2 separate regions of the Homo sapiens genome follow, and region 1 is reported to be linked to region 2. Evidence: microRNA targets listed by miRTarBase, many of them from high-throughput screens and not tested one by one. Region 2 holds a microRNA gene; the other region holds the end of a gene's coding sequence.

What was found. The annotated mature microRNA hsa-miR-218-2-3p reads CAUGGUUCUGUCAAGCACCGCG and lies in region 2 at 1,658-1,679, opposite strand. An mRNA with a match to its seed (bases 2 to 7 or 8) in the 3' UTR can be bound and repressed. Matches are read on the target gene's strand: a 7mer-m8 pairs with bases 2 to 8, a 7mer-A1 pairs with bases 2 to 7 and ends in A, and an 8mer does both.
Region 1: the mRNA of TMEM263 is a reported target of hsa-miR-218-2-3p. Seed matches in the 3' UTR shown: 7mer-A1 at 788-794.

The regions. Positions count from the first base shown.
Region 1 is chr12:106,971,048-106,974,353 of GRCh38, forward strand. It overlaps TMEM263 (transmembrane protein 263), which reads left to right. Exons shown (of 4, transcript NM_152261.4): 4 at 58-2,988. The coding sequence ends at 344. Among named protein-coding and RNA genes, the nearest start is that of MTERF2, 14 kb to the right of the region's middle.
Region 2 is chr5:168,766,511-168,769,816 of GRCh38, forward strand. MIR218-2 (microRNA 218-2) reads right to left here and starts at 1,745; the gene lies at 1,636-1,745. All of the region lies in intron 14 of SLIT3 (slit guidance ligand 3), which reads right to left.

The DNA of each region.
Region 1 (3,306 bases), not on the chromosome of region 2:
CTCTTTTAAAGACTTGTGACTTATATTTGATTGTCTCATGATATTTTCTCTCATTAGGTTCAATGAAAGATCACCCACAGCAGCAGCCAGGCATGTTGTCCCGTGTGACTGGGGGTATCTTCAGTGTTACAAAGGGAGCTGTTGGTGCCACCATTGGTGGTGTGGCTTGGATTGGTGGAAAGAGTCTGGAAGTGACCAAAACAGCTGTTACAACTGTGCCTTCCATGGGAATAGGGCTGGTGAAAGGGGGTGTCTCTGCTGTGGCTGGAGGTGTTACAGCTGTTGGGTCTGCTGTTGTAAACAAAGTGCCCTTAACAGGAAAGAAGAAAGACAAATCTGACTGAAATATAGAGATACACTTGCGCTCCACAGCACTGTAATGCCAGTGGCATTGAATTGCTAAATTATGGACTACAACCAAGTCAACTGTTTTGGACGTTTATCTTCTAAACTGCTGTGTTGAAAGTATTGATGACTGGCTTTCATCTAAAAAGAAGAGACCAATACGAGCACAGTATATGAAGGTTTCTCATACTTAAGTTCCAGGTTTTTATCTGGTAAAATGTTACACTTACTCGGTTGTAACTGAAGATATGGTATGTTTGAATATTTACTATAAGTCTTTCAGTTTGACTAAAAATGTGAAAGTTGAATTTAGTAGATGATCTTCACAGTTCCATATGTATAATGTGCCAGGTAACTCACCTGCCCCTTAAGAAGGGAACCTTGAATTACATAAGCCGTACCTTTGATGTGCCTAATAGTTTCAGATGTCTTAGTTTTTTATAACCATAGTTGATTAGGCCAAGAGGCATTCATTTCTTATTTAAGCTGGCAAAATTAGCAGGAATTAGAGAAGTTTAAAAAGATAAATGGTTTTATGATAATGTTAACCATCTTTTGTTAGTAAATATGCGTTCTATTATTTTAATCATTGATGCCTTACAAAAGAAAACATCTTTTCTAATACCCTGAATATGTGCTGTTCTTAGAATCATCTATGGATTCTTTTAAAGGTTGTTTGTGAAATTAGTTTTCCCTTTTTAGAATCTCAGGAGTAGTGGGGTAAAGACATTTCCTGCTGTCAGTGGATAAGACAGAGCTTGTTAACTGTTTTGGCAGTAGTTAAAATCAAATTGTACACTTCTCAGCCTGGGTTCATGCTTCATCATTAATACACCTCACAGTGCCTAAGGAACATTTACTTACTGGTCAGAAGGTATTTTGGAAGAGTTTCATATTAAGGAGGAACAAATAATAATTTTAAGTTCTTAAAAATTACCTAAAACACCCCAAATATAAAAAGAAGCCTTCACACCTATTCTGTCTTTAGGATGTCTTAAATTATTAGCAGTACTCCTTTTTTAAAAACACTGTAAAAGTAACCACAAATATGTGAGGACTTACTATTTTAAATGGAATGGAATGAGCTCCATAGATTAGTTTTGAATATAAAGTATATAAAAGTGCATCAGTGGTTTATATAGGCTTTAAAAACATGTTATCTTACAGTCCTTTAAAGCAGCCATAGAGTTTGTATCATTTTTCAAGCCAATTTCAGTCAGGGATTTGAATTGTTTGATTATGGATGATAAATGTGTCATATCTTATTAATATGTCTCATGTCTCGTTCCTTCTTAATATGATTTAGCTGGAATTCATTTTCTTTTCGTTTCATGTTTAATTTCATAAAACGTTTAACAATTGGCATATATACTTGGCATTCCTGTCCACCAAGGATTGTAATCCAAGCCTGGGAAAATCTTAAATTTCTTTTTACTTAAATCTGGAAATTTGTCTCCATTCTGCCACCTTTTTTTTTTTTTTTTTTTATAGTGGAGGGGAGGAAAGGGGGGTGATACCTTGCAGTAAGTAAGTCGAAATAGCATGCCTGAAAATTTGAAACAGACCATTCTAACACCCAAGGCTTGTTTATAAAATACTTGAGAATTACATTAATGTGGAATCAACAGATGCAGAAGAATATAACATAACTTTTAAAAGCTTTCATAAATACCAGCAGCAATTGTAAGCAAATCTACAAAGGTTCTTGAACCTTTCTATTATATACAAAACTGAAAAGTCATTAAGGAGTTCAACTAATCAGGAATTAAATGGTCATTTATTTCATGCAGTATGATTTAAGGTATTTCTTGAGATTCTGGTCAAATGTCATAATCAGCAAACGGGATTAAAAAAAAAACTCCAAAATCACTAAATAATTATCTAAATAATGGTATTGGAGAACTTGTTTCCTGCTATTTGGAAGAGATTGTTGCTTCATTGCTAGTTTGTATTTCTAACTTCTACAGTTATAGACTCCACTGTGCTTTGTGTCTGAATTTCTCAGTATAGACATTTTGTTTACTGTATGCTTGCATATTTATTTTCAACTTTGTTTGTCTTTAAAATTGCTTGAGGAAAAATGGTTGTAATTAATTTCTGCTACAGAAAAGCCACCTGGTACGTTTTGTCTCATCAGGATTGTTTTAAATTCTAAACTATAAGTTTGTTCAGAGGGGCTTTTGCAATGATAGCAGAAAACTGTACAAATGTACAGTTAGTTATAGAGGTTCTTGTTGAAATGAACTTACCATCTGATGATATGTATGTACAGCTGTGTACTTGAGTCTTTTTTAGTTTACTTAGAAAGACTAGCAGTTTGACCTGTTAAACAGGACTAGTTCAAGTCAAGAAACTAAGGTTGTTGTATACACCTGGAGGCATCTGTTATTCAGCTTATCCTTTGAGTGGGTATTTGGCACAATGAGGATAAACTTATGTGACCCACTTGAATGGCTGATCTAATAATGTTGACATTATGCATTCTGTACTTAGTGAAATGTCAGATGAAAATAACTGATGAATAATTTTTTTGTATTAAAGGGATGGGAAAAGAACACATGAATTTGTTAATAAAGCACTATGATCTGCAAACGATGGAATGTTTCATAAAGATCTAAAGAAATAAAGGAAACTTTAAAACAGGGTGATCTTACCATTTTTAGTTACTTTGCAGTTCAGAAAGTGCTGTAGCCAGTTTAAAATTTTTTTTATAGTAATGTACAAACATATCTTTGGATATGTATTTTGATGCTGACACAACCATGAAATACAAATATATTTTAAGCAACTCTAATAATAAAGATTAAGAGTGTAGATTTCTAGGTTTTACCCCAACTTGCCAAATCTCTGCAAGGTGGGGCCCAGGACTGCATTTTAACAACCTCTCTGGGTAATTCTTGAGTACAACAAGAGTACTTTCAAACAAAGTTTGAAAACTGATGGATTATAAAGCAGGGAGCA
Region 2 (3,306 bases):
CAGGGAGCCGTCCTAGTAAGCTATCCCCTTTGGAGTCTATTATGAGTGCAGCCATCTGCCTGAAAACAGAGGGAAATACCCATGGTCTGAGGCTGGCACTGCCTCATCACAGCCTGTGGCTGCGGGGCCAGTAAAGCACTGATGGAAGGGCACCATTATGGACCCACTCCCAGAGGCCTGGTCCCTGCCATGTTAGGGGCAGTGCCGAGGGCCTCAGAATGCCCCTCTCTGTAAGGTGGGAAAGGGAACTTCTCCAGGCTCGAGGATTTGCTCTGTGTTAAATGGGATCTTTGTATGTCCATGCTGGAGAGGAACAGCCATTTGAATAATGCTTTCTCTCTTACTCAAGTTCTTTCTACTAACAGATGAAAGTCTGAAAGGGAGAGTTTAAGCAAATTTCAAGTCCCTATCAAATCACAGTTTTTAAATGTTCTAATTCAAGGCAATGGGGTTGTCCACAGCTGGGAAGGTGGGTATTACAGCAGTACAGTGCAGCCATTCTGGAATCAGATGACCCTGGGTAAGTTAGCTAACCTCTCTGAGCCTCAATATCCTCATCTGTAAAGTGGGACTTTAGATTTTGTGAACATTAAACAAGGTAATGATGTGAAAACAGTTCACTGCCTGGCCTATAGCAAGCACTCAATGTATGTTAAAAAACTACTAAGCAATGGTTGGGCTCCTGGTTCTGAGGGGTAACCTCAGATAGACGAGGTAATAAGAGTCACACCTCATGATGGGGGCCCAGGGCTCAGCTTCTAGTTCTGAGCTAGGCTAAAGTTCCCACCTTAGCTCTCTCTTGCAGAATAGGACAAAGACTCCAGGACAGGAATGAACAACACAGTCTTCTGGTTACACTGGGTCTAGGATTTATCAAGGAACAAGCAAAATAAGAGGTACCAAGATCCCTCTCTTTATTATCAGAGATAGCAGGTTTCCACGTCCACACACACTCCCCTCCCCTGAAACAGAATTAGCACCAGGTGAGGAGCCCAGCACCTCCACGTTAACTGTGCTTTGCAGGTCAAGGAAACAGACTGGACTTTAGGTTTCATGGGGTTCAGGGACTGTGTTTTCATAAAGTATGGGAATGAGGTTCAGAAGGAACCTTGGGTTAAACCCAAAGTCTCAGACTCACATGAGTTTCACCCATTCTCATGCTGACGTTCATTTCAAATAAAGTGAATACCAATAAAGGTGGTGGTGGGAGGGGTCGGGGGTCACAAGCAGTAGGAATTCCCCTTTGGGTTAGCTGCCACTTGGAAAAATGACCTTGGGTTGGGACTCTCCCATGAAACCATGGGGCGTATGCCTTGGGTATACTTGTTCCCTTCCAGTGGAAGAAGAGACACAGTAGTTTCTGAGCTTGAACCTAGTTATTACTCCTTGTCTGACATCCAGACTAGATTTGGGGGAGGGTGACTCCATTTTGGGAAAGAGATGTGGATACAGATCTCTTTCCCCAGGGTGCTTCTCCAGACCCATTTCCCTCTGTATCTGCATCCTTTGAGACTCCTACCCTCCTGCCTTTGGTGAGTTGAGACTGGGAGAGGTGGGTCTGGCAGGTGGTGGGCTGCGGTGCTCCAGAGCAGAGGAGAGGTGTCCAGCGGTGGTGGCGGCGGTGGCGGGCCATGCTGCAGGAGAGCACGGTGCTTTCCGCGGTGCTTGACAGAACCATGTTCCGTTTCCATCGTTCCACCACATGGTTAGATCAAGCACAAAGGAAAGCCCCGCAGCGACTGGTCAGAGTCAAGGTCAGGAAGCAGCGTCAGAGAGAGGACAGGAGCGCTCAGAGGAAGCAGCGTGGAGAAGCGGAAGCCGGAGCAGGCCCCCACTGAGCGTGATTAGTATCAGGAGTGGGGTTCCACTGGAACACTTCCGAAGATTGCAGCCCTGCTGCCCTTGTGCCCCACCCCAGGGAGACACAGTAGGAAGGGAGAAGAACGGGAGGGAAATCACTGGATGCCCATACTCGGGAGCTTCAGGACAGCATGGTTCCTTCCCAAGGAAAGAAAGAACACTCAGACATCTGTGATCCTATCACATGCCTGAATTGAGCCTCTAAACTCCATTCAGTCACACCAGTTGGTCTGACAAGACATTAAACTTAGAAAAGCATCTTCTGCATGCTTTGCAACATAGGCCCAATCCCCCCAACAGCTGAGTGGTTCCATCACAGTCATTCCTCTAGCCCCTTAAGTCAAGAGACAATCCACAGTTCCCAGTGGTCTAGCAAACCTTCAATGCTGTTCTTTAGGAAAAAGCCCCCTTTGACATTCCACAATTCAGGAGTCTCCTTTATATCCTTTGAGGTCAGCAGGAATGCTCTGGCTGATAGACACTCATCCCAGATCATTTGAGGTTTAATAGAGGAGCAGTGGGGTGTCAAAAGAAAATATATCTCTCTAGCCAGAGAGAAAGACAGGAAAACAAATGGGGCCGTAGGGTTTGGACTGAGGAACCTGCAATCATAGTTGTTGTTTGAGAACACTGACTTTCACAGAGATGGTGGCCAGTGCGCCTCCTGATGAAGGGCCTCTTTGAGACTAAGAGAAGGAAGGAAAGGGAAGCCAAGTGATGAGTCTGAGGGGAAGACACTGAATTCTGGGGTCCTTCTTGATTTCTTGTTCTCTTCCTTAGCTGGAAATTATGGGAGCGAACAGGATGAACCAATAACCACTGTCAGGATGCCAAAGGCCCAGGTGAGGGTACCCAGTTTTTATATTCCTCTCTGTGATAGATCAGGGTCAGTTTCCATGAACCTGCTGACTTGGGACTTCCTCCCACTTGGCATTAGGCTGGAGATGTGCATCTTGAAGAAACTGGAGCTAAGGCTAAGTGACTGAGACCCTCCCTGCCTGACCTCTGACATGAGAACCAGTATCAACATTCTTCCACTATGTGTTTTTGGGACTGGGCATATCCTCTAGATGGTCTCAGCATCTCAACGGTGCATAGGTTGTCTGCCATGTTGGACCAGTTAGGAAGAGCCAGCCCACAGCTCTGGGTCTGTCTGGCCTCTCCTCCTTCCTAAGGTCTCTCATCACACGCACTAGAGTCAGCCACTAGAATCTGGACTCCACTCTGCTTTGACACCTATGCAGGGCTCTGTGAACACTGTGGTTCTGGGACTTCAAATGTGAGTTTGATTAGGACCCTGGTACAAGAGCAGGGGAAATCCATCCTGTTCGTGCAAACCGCCACCCTCACCAAGCCTTAAAATCTAATTTTCTTTCTCTTTGGTTTCTTCCTACAAAAAGAAATGGAGGGATTTGTAGGTAAATTATCAAGAGTCTTCACAGTATG